Linked DNA regions of Homo sapiens: region 2 is linked to region 1. A link means that fine-mapping ties the variant in region 1 to the expression of a gene that starts in the linked region. Tissue or cell type: whole blood. Region 1 holds a variant in brackets; the other region holds the start of a gene. All regions are shown on one strand. Distances are from middle to middle.

Evidence for each region. PIP is the estimated chance that this variant, and not a neighbour inherited with it, causes the effect.
Region 2: it holds the start of F7, and the variant in region 1 is fine-mapped to the expression of F7 in whole blood (TOPMed, PIP 0.99).

Annotation. Positions count from the first base shown.
Region 1 is chr13:113,172,423-113,180,524 of GRCh38, reverse strand. It overlaps PCID2 (PCI domain containing 2), which reads left to right. Exons shown (of 14, transcript NM_001127202.4): 11 at 294-367; 12 at 483-608; 13 at 1,436-1,559; 14 at 2,238-2,989. The coding sequence ends at 2,327. Among named protein-coding and RNA genes, the nearest start is that of PROZ, 18 kb to the right of the region's middle. RefSeq lists an enhancer at 7,240-7,740. The variant C/G (reference allele first, on the strand shown) is at 3,936.
Region 2 is chr13:113,101,850-113,109,951 of GRCh38, reverse strand. It overlaps F7 (coagulation factor VII), which reads right to left and starts at 4,161. Exons shown (of 8, transcript NM_019616.4): 1 at 4,047-4,161. The coding sequence starts at 4,110.

The sequences.
Region 1 (8,102 bases):
CTTATACTAGCATTTCTTCAGTTATCACTCTCCTGTTATAGAAATTCGAAGAAATGTGAGAAGGTCAAGATCAAGGTCACGTGTCATGGAATGACAAAAGTGTGTTGTACCCAGGTGTTCTGATTTCTAGACCTGTGTTGTTTTCCTAGTGTACTATGATGTGTTTAATCCATGGACATTCTAAGAAACTCAGGTTGCAATTTTCTTAAAACTTAATTCCTTGATATGAATATTTATCAAGGACAATTTTGTCAAAAATGAAAGCATTTTCATTCTGGAAAATTGACTCTTAGGGTCACATGCCCACTGTGGAGCTCCTGAAAAAGTATCACCTGATGCAGTTTGCGGAAGTAACCAGAGCTGTGAGGTAGAGTATGCCATCCTTCCTGTTTGGGGTTTTAAAAATGCAAGCCTGATGAGAGTTGACGTGCACGCTCTGTGAGAAACTCACCCTCCTTCTGACGCGCCTCCCCCCTCACCAGCGAGGGCAACCTGCTGCTGCTGCACGAGGCGCTGGCGAAGCACGAGGCCTTCTTCATTCGCTGCGGAATCTTCCTCATCCTGGAGAAGCTGAAGATCATCACCTACAGGAACCTCTTTAAGAAAGTGTAAGCATTTCCCCGGCACATTGGGCTCCCAGTGTGGCTCTCGGCAGAGCAGTCAGACATCCAGGGCTGTTGCAGTCTAAGAGAGAAGGCCACCGTGTGGGTGGGGTCGTTATCTTCCTTCCATTGTGTGGGATAAAATGAAGCCTCCGCCCACTGCCTCCTGGGGACCCTGCGCGAGACACGTGAGTAGCACAAGCTGTGCCTGGACTTGTGGGGGAGGTAAGCAGGTTCTATGTGAGAAGACAACTTGAGAACATCAGCCCTGAGAGCCGCGGTACCACATTTCATCAGAGCACACAGGACTCGCCACTCACTCCCCTCCCTTAGTGCTGACCAAGTAGCCCTCCCAGCCACTTCTGCCTGTCACAAAGGCAGATGCAGAGATCGTCATTCCTTTCCTCACACGTCTTCTGAGGCCTCGTCCCAGCAGGATCTCAGTTGTGTAAACTTCAGGCAAAGGCCAACTTTGTATAGAGCTGTGGGTAGCACGTCACAAACAGTAGGGACCCTATTTCGCTGAGTCTGTGAGACACAGCCCATTGTCAGGTGCTTCCTGATTTCAGGGAGATTAAAATGTGAAAAAAAAAACCGAACCTTAATGAAATACTTAGAAAATAATTAAAAATTGTGTTTGTACTAGTGACTTTTTAAAGATTGAAAAGTCAAATTAGATTTAATAGCTCTGAGAGTGTAGTTTAGAGTTTATCTAATAGGTGGGAATTTTTTTACTCCTTTAGAACACCGGCTTATTAAGAGGTGCCTTTTCTTGGCTGTGGAGTATTGCATCCTGTCGGTAACCACAGTGCCCTTCTCCTCCCCTCTTCCAGGTATTTGTTACTGAAAACACACCAGCTGTCTCTGGATGCTTTTCTGGTTGCCTTGAAGTTCATGCAGGTGGAGGACGTGGACATTGACGAAGTTCAGTGTATTCTGGCTAACTTGATATACATGGTGTGTGAGTCCTGGTTTTAATTTAAGCAGCTACTCACAGCAAGATTCAGCCCAGAATTTGAAGCTTCAGTGTGGTGGTGTTAAAATTGTTAAAAGGCCTTCTGCTTTTTTTTTGATAGAACTAATTTTAGCCCAGGAAATACCATTCACCAGGGCCTTAGGAGCATGAGGGGACGGATACTCTTGTATGTTTGCATATTCTTTACTGGCGGTACATCCCTCGGTATCTGTCGATTCTCCAACCCCCCTCGGATACCAAAATCCACAGGTGCTTCAGTCACTGATAGGACGTAGTATTTGCATATGAGCTATGCACGTCCTCCTGTATACTTTAAATTATCTCTAGGTTACTTAAAATACTCAGTGCACTGTAGATAGCTGTTGTACTGTATTGTTTAGGGAATCACGGCAAGGGAAGAGCGTCTGTACGTGTTCATTACAGATGCATTTTTTTTCCCCAAATATTTTCAGTCCACAGTTGGTTAGATTCATGGATATGAAACCCACCGTGGATATAGAGGGTTGATTGTATTTATTTTTACTCATTGTCTTCCCGCTGAACTGAACTGTGCCGCTCTTGGGGAAGAATGCTAATGCCAAATTAATTAGATCACCCAGCATCTTTGACATGACTCAGATCCAAAAATGTAAACGCATTCCTCCCTTTCTGCCCCGCAGGGACACGTCAAAGGCTACATATCGCATCAGCATCAGAAGCTGGTGGTCAGCAAGCAGAACCCATTTCCTCCCCTGTCCACGGTGTGTTGAAAGTACACGGAGCCCCGAGGACGGGTGAGCAGTTGTTTCTTTCCACTTTGGTTGTGCTGATGAGACCGGTCCGGTACTGCAACAAGGCTCCCTGAAGCCGGAACTCTTGGAGGCGCTTTTCCCAGGGATGCTGAGGCTGAGATTTTCAGCACACCCGAGTTAATCTCCTTCATTTGTAACTAATTTCAGCCTGATGAAAACCTGGAATTCCTTTTTCACAGACTCGGCTGGTTCTGGAGTCTTTGTGAGACTTCTTTGAAGGAGGCTTTGCGTGAAGGCTGCTCGGCTCACTTTTCCTAAGTGTGGTTCCTGAAGGCTGTCTTTGTAACTTTTTGTAGTTCTTTGTGTAAAAAGCGTATTCTGAATTTATACACATGGCATGTTCTTCATTATATCTTCCAGGATACATCTATTTTTATATATTAAATTTGAATGTGTTATCAAAATGCTTGGTTAACTTAAGGCACCTTTTTAAAAGCAGAATTTAATTTGATTTAAATTTTCCAGATTTTATAGCTTGCCTGTATGGATGCTCCTCAATTTATGATAGGGTTACATCCCAATAAACTTATTTTATTTGCCTTTGCTTTGTTGGTTAAAAAAAAATTTCTTTTAAAAAACCATCTTAAATTGAAAATACATTTAATACACCTGCTACTAAACATTATGGCTCACTCTAGCCTTCCTTAACATACTCAGAAGCCTCCACTCTTAGGCAAAATCAAACACAAAGCCGATTTTATTTTATAATAAAGTGTAGATGCCGGGCGTGGTGGCTCACGCCTGTAATCCCAGCACTTTCAGAGGCCAAGGCAGGCAGATCACCTGAGATTGAGAGTTGGAGACCAGCCTGACCAACATGGAGAAACCCCGTCTCTACTAAAAATACAAAATTAGCCGGGCGTGGTGGCGCATACCTGTAATTCCAGCTACTCAGGAGGCTGAGGCAGGAGAATCGCTTGAACCCGGGAGGCAAAGGTTGCAGTGAGCCGAGATCATGCCATTGCACTCCAGCCTGGGCAACAAGAGCGAAACTCTGTCTCAAAAAAATAAATAAATAAAAATAAAAGTGTAAATACCTCGTGTAGCTTACCGAGTGCTACACTGAGAGTGGAAACTGAAGGGCTGCGTGGACGCTGAGGCATGGCTGCCCCTGAGCGCGTCCCTTCGGCACCACGGCGAGGTTGACAGTCGCTAAGTTGGGCCACTCACATTGGGCTGTTGGGGCTGCCATCACAGAATACCACAGGCAGCTTAAGCAACAGGAATGTATTTCCTCACAGTTCTAGAGGCTGGAGGTCTGACTGAGATGGGGTTGCCAGCACGGTCGGCTTCTGGGGAGGGCTCTCTTCTGAGTTGCACACTTAAGAATAAGGTGGTATTCTTGCTGTGCTAGAGATGGTACAGATAGAGATGACTCTCTCCCTCCTTTTTTGAGACAGGACCTCACTCTGTCACCCAGGCTGGAGTGCGGCAGTGCAGTCAGTGCTTACTGCAGCCTCGACCTCCGAGACTCAAGTGATCTTCCCTCCTCAGCCTCCCAAGTAGCTGGGAGCACAGGTGCATGCCACCACACCCAACTAATTTTTTTATTTTTTGTAGAGACAG[C/G]GTCTTGCTAATATTGCACAGGCTGGTCTGGAACGCCTGGGCTAAAGCAATTCCCCCACCTCGGCCTCCCAAAGTGCTGGGGTGACAGGCATGTGCCACCACACCCGGCTCTCTTCCTCTTATAAGGCCACAGTTCTGTTGGGTTAGGACCTCACCCTTATGACCACATTTAGCCTTAGTTACCCCCTGAAGACCTTACCTCCAGATACAGTCACACTGGGGCTAGGACTTCAATGTAAGAAATTTGGGGGACACAGTTTAGTCCCCAGCACTGCCATTTTTCAGACTATGCACATTTCCCCGTTTATAAAAAATTTACTAAAGAAGAACACAAACTATAAGAGCTCATCTTTGCAAAGTTACTGCATTTGAAAGCTGCTTGTTCAAGGAGAGGCTATTCTACAAAGTGTGAATCCCTCTTTCTCTCTCTCCGGGCCGCGCGGCGCAGGACTCACTTTGTGTGGCTCCTTCCTCAGGTTCCCCTGGATGCAGGAGCTGCCCCAGGGCTTCAGCAGCACTCCTTAGCTCGCTCCTACATCTGCAGGTCTGCAGTTTCTTCCGGGCTGGGCGGGGAAGCTTGTGGGCTCTTCTGGGGCCCGAATGGGCCTCTTTGAAGGTGACTCATTCCCGTGTATTGGCCCGGGCTCTCACCTGGAGCTCAGCAGGGCTGTGGGTGGGCTCCCCTGTTTCTCTCCACACGTAGGGAGCTGGATTCTGGGAGCGCAGATCCCAGTAGAGCCAGGGAAGCCAGATCTCTTTTATGCCCTGCTCTCCTAAGTCACACCCGGATTCCAGCCGTGGACTGCCACACGTACACGCGAGAGATGAATGCACGAAGGCAAGCGCCTGTGCCTGTGGAGTTCATGCCAAGGATCCTCTTGACCTACGTAGCTGCTCCCCAGCAGCAGCAAGGTCCTCAGCGCTGGCAGTCGTGACAAGTGCCTCCTATGTCCTGTGGGGCAGACACGGAGCAAACTCATGCCGGCGGAGGCTTTGGGCGCGCATCTGTTTTCTAGCTACCCATGTGTCCAGTGGGGCCCCGTTCTCTTGCAGTGTTGGGTACGGAAATCTGATCTTCCCTGCTGCTCTGCATGGGCCTTGAACATCCTTCAACTTTTGACTTAAATGATTTTCTTGCAGTAATTTGAATATTGGAATTTCTGCCAGCATACCTGAATTTCATTCTGGATGTAATAGCGGTGGAAAGCTCAGGTTTGTCAACATTTCTGGGTAACGTATTGAACCGTCCATAGTGACACCTAAAGTCAAGGATTGATACTTTAAGGTAATTGGATGGTTATTCTTAGCGATGAAAGAAACAACCTCAGTGTAGGTGTCCTTACGTTTACCTCTTGGTGTTCAGGCCTCTGTCAGTTCGTTCTCACGCTGCTATAAAGAACTGCCCGAGACTGGGTAATATGTAAAGGAAAGAGGTTTAATGGACTCACAGTTCCACATGACTCGGGGGACCTCAGGAAACTTACAATCATGGCGGAAGGGGAAGTGAGCATGAGCAAAACTGCCACTTTTAAAACCATCAGCTCTCGTTAGACGCCCTCACTGTCACGAGAACAGCGTGGGGGAGCCGCCCCCGTGATCCAATCACTTCTCCACACGTGGGGATTACAATTCAAGATGGAATTTGGGTGGAGACGCAAAGTCAAGGCCTGTGTCCAGCATGGCAGCATTCAAGTCCACGGGCGTACACATGGGCATGTATCAGTGTGTTTGCATGGATTCAAATATTGGACTTAATAATCTCTGCCCAAGTGTGAACTAGTTTGGCCCTTTTAAAACATCATCACAGGCTGGACGTGGTGGCTCACATTTATGATACCAGCACTTTGGGAGGCTGAGGCCAGTAGATTGCTTGAGCCCTGGAGTTCGAGACCAGCCTGGGCAATATGGCAAAATCCATCTCTGCAGAAAATACAAAAATTAGCTGGGCATGGTGGTCCACACCTGTAGTCAGGAGGCTGAGGTGGGAGGGTCAATTGAGCCCAGGAAGTTGAGCCCACTATGAGCTAGGATCGTGCCCTGCACTCCAGCCTTGGGTGGCAGACAGAGACCCTGTCTCAAAAAACAAGAAAAACAGTCATCATAGCTAGCTTCCCTTTTCTTGAGTTTTACTGTTTTGTTAGATTTGTTTATGGTGTAGTTTCTAAGCATGTCATTAAATGCCAGTAGAGTAGTTACTTCATTTTGAAGGCCCCTCATGTCTCTGCTGACAGTCTGGGCCTGTAGCTTTCTCTGATTGTTCCTGATTTCACAGATTTCACCATTACGGAGGGAGGGTCTTCATATGCTTTGCCTCTGCCCAGCTGTGTTTGAAGTAGGTTTTTTTTTTTTTTTGAGATGGAGTCTCGCTCTGTTGCCCAGGCTGGAGTGCAGTGGCATGATCTCGGTTTACTGCAACCTCTGCCTCCCGGGTTCAAGTGATTCTCCTGCCTCAGCCTCCTCAGTAGCTGGGATTACAGGCGTGAGCCACCACGCTTGGCAAAGATTTTTTTTTTTTTTGTATTTTTAGTAGAGATGGAGTTTCACCATGTTGGTCAGGCTGGTCTCGAACTCCTGACCTCGTGATCCGCCCGCCTCAGCCTCCCAAAGTGCTGGGATTACGGGCGTGAGCTACTGCGCCTGGACTGGAATAGTTTTCAAGCAGGGCTTCCACTCTAGTAAATCCAAATTTGTAATAGAAGTACCAGAAGCAAGATTGCAGACATTTCTGCAGCATTATGTACAGAAAGCCTGCCATGTTCATTAGCTGATTTTAAAATCATTAGTAGGCATTTAAAGCAGTGACTTACTTACCTTATTGTAGTTTGAGAATAATACAACCAAACTTCACTAAGACTTTAAAATTCACCCTAGTGAATTTTAAACTGCCCTCCCCATTAATTTGCCTTAAATTACAGTGTTGCTTTTTGCCAAGGACCTTTCAGAGAAATGGGCCATTTCATCTACAGGTTGGAGAAAAGTTTAATTCTGGGGTTAAAGCGTAAATGAAAGAGAGTGTGCTGAAGAACAGTAAGGCTTAAAAACCCAAGTTATGTGTAAATTGTTCTCAACTCAAGAGAATATTTGTCCACCTACATTTTTAATTCCTCTTTTTAAAAGTCCTCTCTGCTCTTCAACGATGCTCTGCTCTGTGTCACTCAAGGACACTGGTGGAGAAGCAGCTGTGCCCCTTCCTTAACTAAGAGTTAAAATGTGAACATTTATGCCATTTCTGTCCATTTCAGTGCAAATTCAGACCCTGCTAGGAGCTCCAGTCTCCAAGGACGTTTCACTGGGGGCTGGACTGCAGCTCTGTCTTTGGTACTTGCATTGCAGCTGCAGCCTTCATGACAGCAGGTGTTTACTGTGATTCAGCACGTGCTGTCCTGGTCTGTTCTACAAAATACCATGGACTGGGTGATAACAGAAACTCATTTCTCACAGATCTGGGGGCTGGGAAGTTCAAGATCTGGGTGCCGGCAGATTTGGTGTCTGCTGAGGGCTCTCTGTCTCCAGGGTAGCACCTCACTGCAGTGTCCTCGTATGGGAGAAGAGATGGAAGGGGCTGGCAGAGCCCTCATGGCCTAGTCACCTCCCAAGGGCCCCACCTCCCCATATCATCATCTTGGGGTAAGTTCCAATTTTGGAGTTTTGAAGGGACACACACTCCAGCCACAACAGTGCTGGGCGTTGCCCTAGCTGCCCATCAGCCCATTGGTGAGGTGCTGGGATTCTACCCTGGGCGACCCTGAGGCATGAAGAGGTGGAACAGTTGTCCAAGAGCCACCTGGTGGGACGAGCAGAGAGCTGGGTCTCAGTGCTCAGCCCTGACTTCGGGCCCCGGAACCTTCCGTGGGAACCCTCCCAGAGAAGGGCGGGTGCACAACCCCGTGAGACGCCGGCGTGCCTCCTCAGCCTCTCTTGTGCTCTCTGGCCCTTTCCTCTAATGCTGCCTCTCTGGGATACCCACAGGGTCATTCTCCTCCATTGCCAACCTGCTTCTAGTGGCTGCTTCTGCACTGAGCCATGGTCCTCAGTCACAGTGGCAATTGGTAAACCAACAGAGGAGGTCACTTTCTGCTGTAACCGGAGATTGTTGTCGCTTCTGCACCAGAACACACTCACCAGTGTGCAGGCTGGGGTGGCTATTCCCTGAGCACAGGGAACACT
Region 2 (8,102 bases), 71 kb after region 1:
TGGGAAGACGGGGCTGGTGAGGGCCAGAGACGCCCAGGGCGAGGCAACCCCGTGCGCTCAGCTCCGAGCAGGCCGCTCTTCAGGACGCCCTACAGCCGAGGGGACCGTCACCCGGGAGCGCCGTGAGCTGTGGGCACCACGCGGTGGTGGAGAGTGACCCCCGCCCCGGGGCGGCCGTGCTGCCCGAACCTGCCTCAGCCCGCGAGGGGAGACGGGCCTGGGGGCAGGCGGGAGAGGGAGGCCCCGGGAGGAGGCGAGCGGGGCTGAGAGGACGCGCGGGAGGGGCTCTGGAGAGGCCGCAGGAGGCGCGTTCCGGAGGGACGACCTTTGCTGGGAGGACGAGGCCTCAGGTGGACGCTGTGGGCCGGTGGGCAGGAGCCCGAGTTCTGCAGGAGCGGCCTAAATTGGTTACTGAGCGCGGAAGAAGGGACGGAAGGTGAGCGCTACTGGGCCACGTGGGGCCGAGAGAAAGGCCACTGCCTGTTTTCTTTAAAATCAGTTTCACACGTCGACGCCCCTAGAGAACTGGTCTGGTTTGGAAGGAGGCTGAGGATGCAGGCGGGGACACCAAAGAATCGGGCTCAAGGAGGTGGGAACTCACGGACTCCGAGTCCTCACAGGAGGTGCCCTGGGCGGCAGGAGTGGGAGGGGAGGCCCATGTCCCTGCAGTCCCCGACACCCACGCTCCCGGGACACCCACGACCCCCGGGACACCCACACCCCCGGGACACCCACGCCCCCCGGACACCCACGCCCCTGGGACACTCACACTTCTGGGATACCCACGCCCCCGGGACACCCACACTCCCGGGACACCCACGCCCCCGGGACACCCACACTCCCGGGACACCCTCGCCTCCGGAACACCCACACTCCCGGGACACCCTCGCCTCCGGAACACCCACACTCCCGGGACATCCACTCCCCCGGGACACCCACACTCCCGGGACACCCACGCCCCCGGGACACCCACACCCCTGGGACACCCACGCTCCCGGGACACCCACGCCCCCGGGACACCCACGCTCCCGGGACACCCTCGCCTCCGGAACACCCACACTCCCGGGACACCCTCGCCTCCGGAACACCCACACTCCCGGGACACCCACTCCCCCGGGACACCCACACTCCCGGGACACCCACGCCCCCGGGACACCCACACCCCTGGGACACCCACACTCCCGGGACACCCTCGCCTCTGGAACACCCACACTCCCGGGACACCCACGACCCCCGGGACACCCACACCCCCGGGACACTCACACTTCTGGGATACCCTCGCCTCTGGAACACCCACACTCCCGGGACACCCACGCCCCCGGGACACCCACACTCCTGGGACACCCTCGCCTCCGGGACACCCACACTCCCGGGACACCCACTCCCCCGGGACACCCACACTCCCGGGACACCCACGCCCCCGGGACACCCACGCTCCCGGGACACCCTCGCCTCCGGGACACCCACGCTCCTGGGACACCCTCGCCTCCGGAACACCCACACTCCCGGGACACCCACTCCCCCGGGACACCCACACTCCCGGGACACCCACACCCCCGGGACACCCACACCCCCGGGACACCCACACTCCCGGGACACCCTCGCCTCCGGAACACCCACACTCCCGGGACACCCTCGCCTCCGGAACACCCACACTCCCGGGACACCCACAACCCCCGGGACACCCACGCCCCCGGGACACCCACACTCCCGGGACACCCTCGCCTCCGGAACACCCACACTCCCGGGACACCCTCGCCTCCGGAACACCCACACTCCCGGGACACCCACGCCCCTGGGACACCCACACTCCCGGGACACCCTCGCCTCCGGAACACCCACACTCCCGGGACACCCTCACCTCCGGAACACCCACACTCCCGGGACACCCACGCCCCCGGGACACCCACACTCCCGGGACACCCTCGCCTCCGGAACACCCACACTCCCGGGACACCCTCACCTCCGGAACACCCACACTCCCGGGACACCCACGCCCCCGGGACACCCACACCCCCGGGACACCCACGCCCCTGGGACACTCACACTTCTGGGATACCCTCGCCTCCGGAACACCCACGCCCCCGGGACACCCACGCCCCCGGGACACCCACGCCCCCGGGACACGCACACTCCCGGGACACCCTCGCCTCCGGAACACCCACACTCCCGGGACACCCACACTCCCGGGACACCCACGCCCCCGGGACACCCACACTCCCGGGACACCCACGCCCCCGGGACACCCACACTCCCGGGACACCCACGCCCCCGGGACACCCACGCTCCCGGGACACCCACGCCCCCGGGACACCCACACTCCCGGGACACCCTCGCCTCCGGGACACCCACACTCCCGGGACACCCACTCCCCCGGGACACCCACACTCCCGGGACACCCTCGCCTCCGGGACACCCACACTCCCGGGACACCCACTCCCCCGGGACACCCACACTCCCGGGACACCCACGCCCCCGGGACACCCACACTCCCGGGACACCCTCGCCTCCGGGACACCCACACTCCCGGGACACCCACTCCCCCGGGACACCCACACTCCCGGGACACCCTCGCCTCCGGGACACCCACACTCCCGGGACACCCACGCCCCCGGGACACCCACACTCCCGGGACACCCACGCCCCCGGGACACCCACACTCCTGGGACACCCACGCCCCCGGGACACCCACACTCCCGGGACACCCACACCCTTGGAGGCTGGTGTGAGCAGAGCCGGTGACCGCCCTGGGGTGAAAGCAGATTTGCATCAGAAAAGCTCTCAAGAACTGAGGAAAACCTGATGAAGAACACACGATTATCTGGAAGGAACAGAATGGAGCAAAGAAGATAAAATCGCCTGCACCCCAGTCCCAGGGAAGGCCAAGCTGGAGCGGTCACTTCCTCTCGAGCAGGGAACACCCTCCTTGGGGGGCACTGCAGTAGCCACCCCGCGGGCTGGCTCTTTGCCATGGGAGGGGAAGGAGGTGATGTTGGCCCCCACTGGGCCCCAGGACAAAACCAGTGGCAGTCCCTGCTCACCTCTGTGAGGCCCCGGCTTCCACGGCATGTCCCGTGTTTCTCCTCCTGAGGCCTTAGCGACCCCGCCTGGGGCAGGAAGGTGGCCGGGGTCATAAGGCCATGCTGTGAGCTAGGGCTGCAGCCCCACATCCCAGGCACTGTCCCTCACAGCCCACCCCCCACTCGCCATCCCCACACGCCATCCCCACGCCCCACTAGCCATCCTCACGCCACACCCCCTACTCGCCATCCCCATGCCCCACTCACCATTCCCAGGCCCCAGCCCCACTCGCCATCCCCACCCCCCCATGCCCCATCCTCTGCACCCCACACGCCCTTTCCATGCCCCATCCCCCACACCCCACATGCCCCATCCCCGACACCCCACACACCCCATCCCCCACACCTCCATGCCCCATCCCCTGCACCCCACACGCCCTTTCCATGCCCCATCCCCCACACCCCACACACTTTCCCACACCTCACCCCCACACCCCATGCCCCACATGCTGTTTCCCAGGCCCCACCCCCCCACGGCCCATCCCCCACACCCCACACGCCATCCCCACCCCCGATCCTCCACACCCCATCCCCTACGCCCCACATGCCGTTTCCCACACCCCATCCCCCATGCCCCAGGCGCCATCCCCCACGCACCGTCCCCTACCTGTGCTCCCCAGCCTGGGAGCACCCTGTGCGCACTTCCTGCACTCTGAGAGGCCCCAGACTCCCTGCGCTTGTCCGACCTCACAGGCAGGGGCCCATGGGGGCCAGGAAAGCACCACCCACTCCTAAAGTTCTTTGAAAAATAATCCCGCCAAAGCCTGGGCCACCAAGAAGGGCCTCCCCTCCTGTGCCTGGATGCTGGTTTCTAGAAGGAAAGAAATTGAACAGGAGCCGCCAGAAAACCCTCCTGGTGGATGGGGGTGTCCGGAGCAAGGGCGGGGTTTGGGAAGCCCGGGCTGGCTCCTGGATTTGCCCACTGCCCTTCCACCAAGTTTATGGAGAAAACCTCCCCGGACGCACCTGCAGCCAGGCAGCCCTGAAGCCCAAGCAGAAGGCAGAGGAGCCTGAGGGCCTGGGAGACCATGATGAAATCTCTGCAGTGCTGCCCCTGCCTGTTGACATTCCCCATGGGACTGACGGGCAAAGTTCTCTGCCTCCAAGGGTGACAGAGGGATGGGGGAGGGGAGGACACAGGCGTCCTCTGAACACCCCAGCTGAGAGCTGCACCTGGCCGGCCAGTGGCCATGCATCCCCTGCTGCCCAGCCACTGAGCTCAAGTGGGGGGGACAGGAGAAAGGTCAGGTGACCCCAGCTGTGCTGCAGAGCGGACGGTTTTGTTGCCAGCGTGCAGGTGTTAAGGTGTGTGTGGCACCAACACTTCAAATACGATCTAGAATTCCAAACCCCTAATGTAAGTTGGGAAACAGATTTAAACTGCAGATGAAAACTTGTCCCATAGCAATCATGCGAGTCAAATCTCAAGACTGTATCTTGGGTGTGGATGTAAATATTTGAAGAGAGCCTCCAGACCAGGCCAGCTAGGCCGTTGCCTGCAAGGGAGGCTGGTTTCTTAGGTGAGCCACAGAGCCTCACTGAGAAGTGCCGGGAATAGGATCATTCTGGCCCTGAGCTGGGCACCCCCACTCCGTTTTGACTGCAGGCAGCACCCCCATTCTCCAGCGGTCCACATCTTACGTCTTTTTGTTTGTTTTGTTTTGTTTGTTTGAGACAGAGTCTTGCTCTGTTGCCAGGCTGGAGAGTGCACTGGTGCAATCTCACTGCAACCTCCACCTCCCGGGTTCAAGTGATTCTTGTGCCTCAGCCTCCTGAGTAGCTGGGACCACAGGTGCACGTCACCATGCCTGGCTAATTTATATATATATATTTTTTTTTTTTAGCAGAGATGGGGTTTCACCGTGTTGACCAGGCTGGTTTCGAACTCCTGACCTCAAGTGATCCACATGCCTCAGCCTCCCAAAGTGCTGGGATTACAGGCGTGAGCCACTGTGCCCGGCTGGCGGCAGTCCACGTCATTTCTACCTGCTGTCATGGGCCCAAGCCACAAGCTGTGGTGACTAACCACCCCAGGTTGCCCAGGGACTGAGGGTTCTCAGAATGTGGAACTTTCCATCCCAAAAACACTGGGGTAGACGGTCATCCAAGCCTCCTGGGTTGCCCAGCAGGCCTGTCTGACCCCTCAAGCAGGGAGTATCCTCCATGTGAACAGTTGCATTGCTGATGACTTCTTTGGAAGCTGATGTCCAGTTCTTTTTACGGCTGGAGGGAGGGAGGTGATTCCTTCCCAACAGCCAAGTCTTAGCTCAGGGGTGCCTTTCAAAGCAGCCCCCAGCACCCCCAAAGCCTCCCTGCTTGCTGCTGACCTGCATCTCAGTCCAGAGAGCAGAGCACTTGCTGAGGGGCCGACAGGGCATGTTTTCTCTTCCACCCAGCACAGCTGAAGCCCATCTGTGCCCCTCCATGATATCGATCCCAGGGAGATCGCTTACAAAGTAGCTGCTCCGTCTGGAATAAAGCTCACGTCCAGCTCAAATCTGGTCCCCGCGGCTCTCGGCCAGCACAGCCCAAGGTAATTTCAGGACGTGGAGGGGAGGGGGCCATATCTAAACCCTACCCCTTTCCCACCTGAGAGTAGATGGCTGGCTGGTCTTAGGGTACCCTTCCCCTTTGGGGCTCCAGGTCAGAGGTCCTCAACCCTCTCTGGGCAGCAGAATGACCTGGGGAACCTCAAGCGCCAAAACCCCCTGAGAGATTCAGTGGCTCATGGCCTCGGGGCTGGTGAAGCTCTTCAGGTGATGGACCCTCACCTGCATGCAGCCCTCTCTGTGCGGGCAGGCGGGAGGGGGCAGGAACCGGGCTATCTGGCTGGGCTCTCTGCCCGTCTCACTGCTGGCCAGGGCGGCTGCAGGTGCCCGCCTATGGCCATTGTCCTGGTGTGGGTCCTTGAGGACACAGGTGTGAGGGGCTCCACCTGGCCCCGGGGACCCGCTCCATACCTCCCTGAGGGGGACCTGCCTGCTGGTCTCCCTCCCACGTCTGTCCCAGGGGCATGCCTGGAACCTTGCCTGGGGCTGGACCCGGCCACACGGAGTAGCAGGTGTGGGGGCTGCTGCACCATCCCTCTCACAAAACCCCACTTCCTCCCTTCAGGGAGGCTAACCAGGCTCTCCCAGGACTCCCGGGACCTCCTCTGGGGCCTCCTTGGACATGCTGTGGCCCTGTCACTAGGATGGGAGGGTCCTTCAGCCCCTACCCTGGGGAAGGGCACGGTCACAGCTCTGTTCCCAGGCCAGGCCTCCCTCTCTCCTGTGGCAGCCTCTGTTGATCCACCCATCCACTCATTCCCGCCTGCAAGAAGGGCTGGGCCCCTCCGCCTCACAGTCACTCTTGAGTGTGGAGGACACAGGAAAACTTTGGTTGTCATCTCAAGGCAAGTTGCTTGTTTGGGGGCTACAGAAACCACGTCAGCACCTTGTTCATCTGCAGCCATCCCTGACTGTGGTGGTGGGCACACGTGAGCTGTCCAGGGAGTGTGTGAGTCAGATGTCTGTGACATCAGAATCTCTTGGGTGGTGGCTCATGCCTGTAATCCCAGCACTTTGGGAGGCTGAGGACTGAGGATCGCTTGAGGAAAGGAGTTCCAGACCAACCTGGGCAACATAGCAAGACCAAAGCTAGACAAAAAATAAAAAAATTAGCTGGGCTTGGTGGTTCATGCCTGTGGTCCCAGAGACAGAGAACCCGGGAGGCAGAGGTTGCAATGAGCTGAGATTGTGCCACTGCACTCAAGCCTGGGCGACAGAGGGAGACCCTGACTCCTTCCCTACCAAAGAATCTCCATGCTCACACTCGTACATGAGAACCACGCTCGCACAACCCAAACTCACGCCATACACATACCACACTCACACACACCGTACACATGCCACACTCATACCCCAAAGTCACACCACATAAACACACCCCTATACACATGCCACACACCTACACACACGTGATTTCCAGGCTCTTCCACACCCATAAGGAATTGGAATCTACGGGCAGGTCCCGGGAATAGTATTGAACAAACATCCAGGGAAACTGCTATGTGTTCTCGTTTTGGGAACCAGTGAGCACATCCCACCTGGTGCCAAATGCATCTCGGCAGGACGCATGTATGCCAGGGAAACAGGCAGCCACTAACAGGATTTGAGCTTGGGCACCAATTGGTTCCAAATCCTATTTGGTGCAATCCTAGAAGCAAGGGTTTCCTTGTGACGGAGGGTGCAGGGCATGGGAGGACAGAGGAGCTGCGTGCACGGATGCCTGTGTGCCCTGTGCCTGCAAAGCCGCCACAGCAAGCTGTCTTGCAGGCCAGTTCCAATGGCTGACAGTGTGTGCACTGGCGAGGAAAAGCCTGTGCTAAGCGGAACTCTGCTGTCTGTGCAGAGAAGGGAGCTGGGCCTGGGCACCACTGTCAGCCAGTAGAGCACGGGGCTGCTCCCTCCACCCCACCCGGGTGCTTTGCCTTCTTGGGGCCACAGCTGGAGGCAGCTGAGCCCTCGGGCCTGCCGGGTGTCACACCAGTGCTGTAGGATGCTAACTTTCAGTTTAAGAGAGAGAATGTATGCAAGGTTGAACAGTTATGATTTTGAGCAGAATTTTTCTTCTCTGGGCCTTGGTCCTGCTTTTCACCCTTGTCTGGGGTCTTAGCGTGGAGAGAAATTCACCATGGGATGTGCTCAGATTGTCCATCTTATCTTTTTGTCCATCTCTTAAAGTGTAGCTTGTCTTTTGTAAGAAATCTATCCTTGCCCTAGGCAATAAGAATATTCTGTTTCCTCATAATAATGTTTTAATCTTAAGTTTGGGGGGGCTATACTTTTATGCCATCATCCACATGGAAAGGCAGCTGTCCCAATAACACCCGTTCCTGAAGAGGCCATTCCGTGCCAAAGATTGACCAGCCCCAGGACAAGCCAGGTCCCTGCACACATCCCTGCCTGGGAATCTGAATTCTGCTCGACCAGTTTAGCCTCTCTCCCCCTTGTCACGACTGATGACAGGTTTATGATCTAT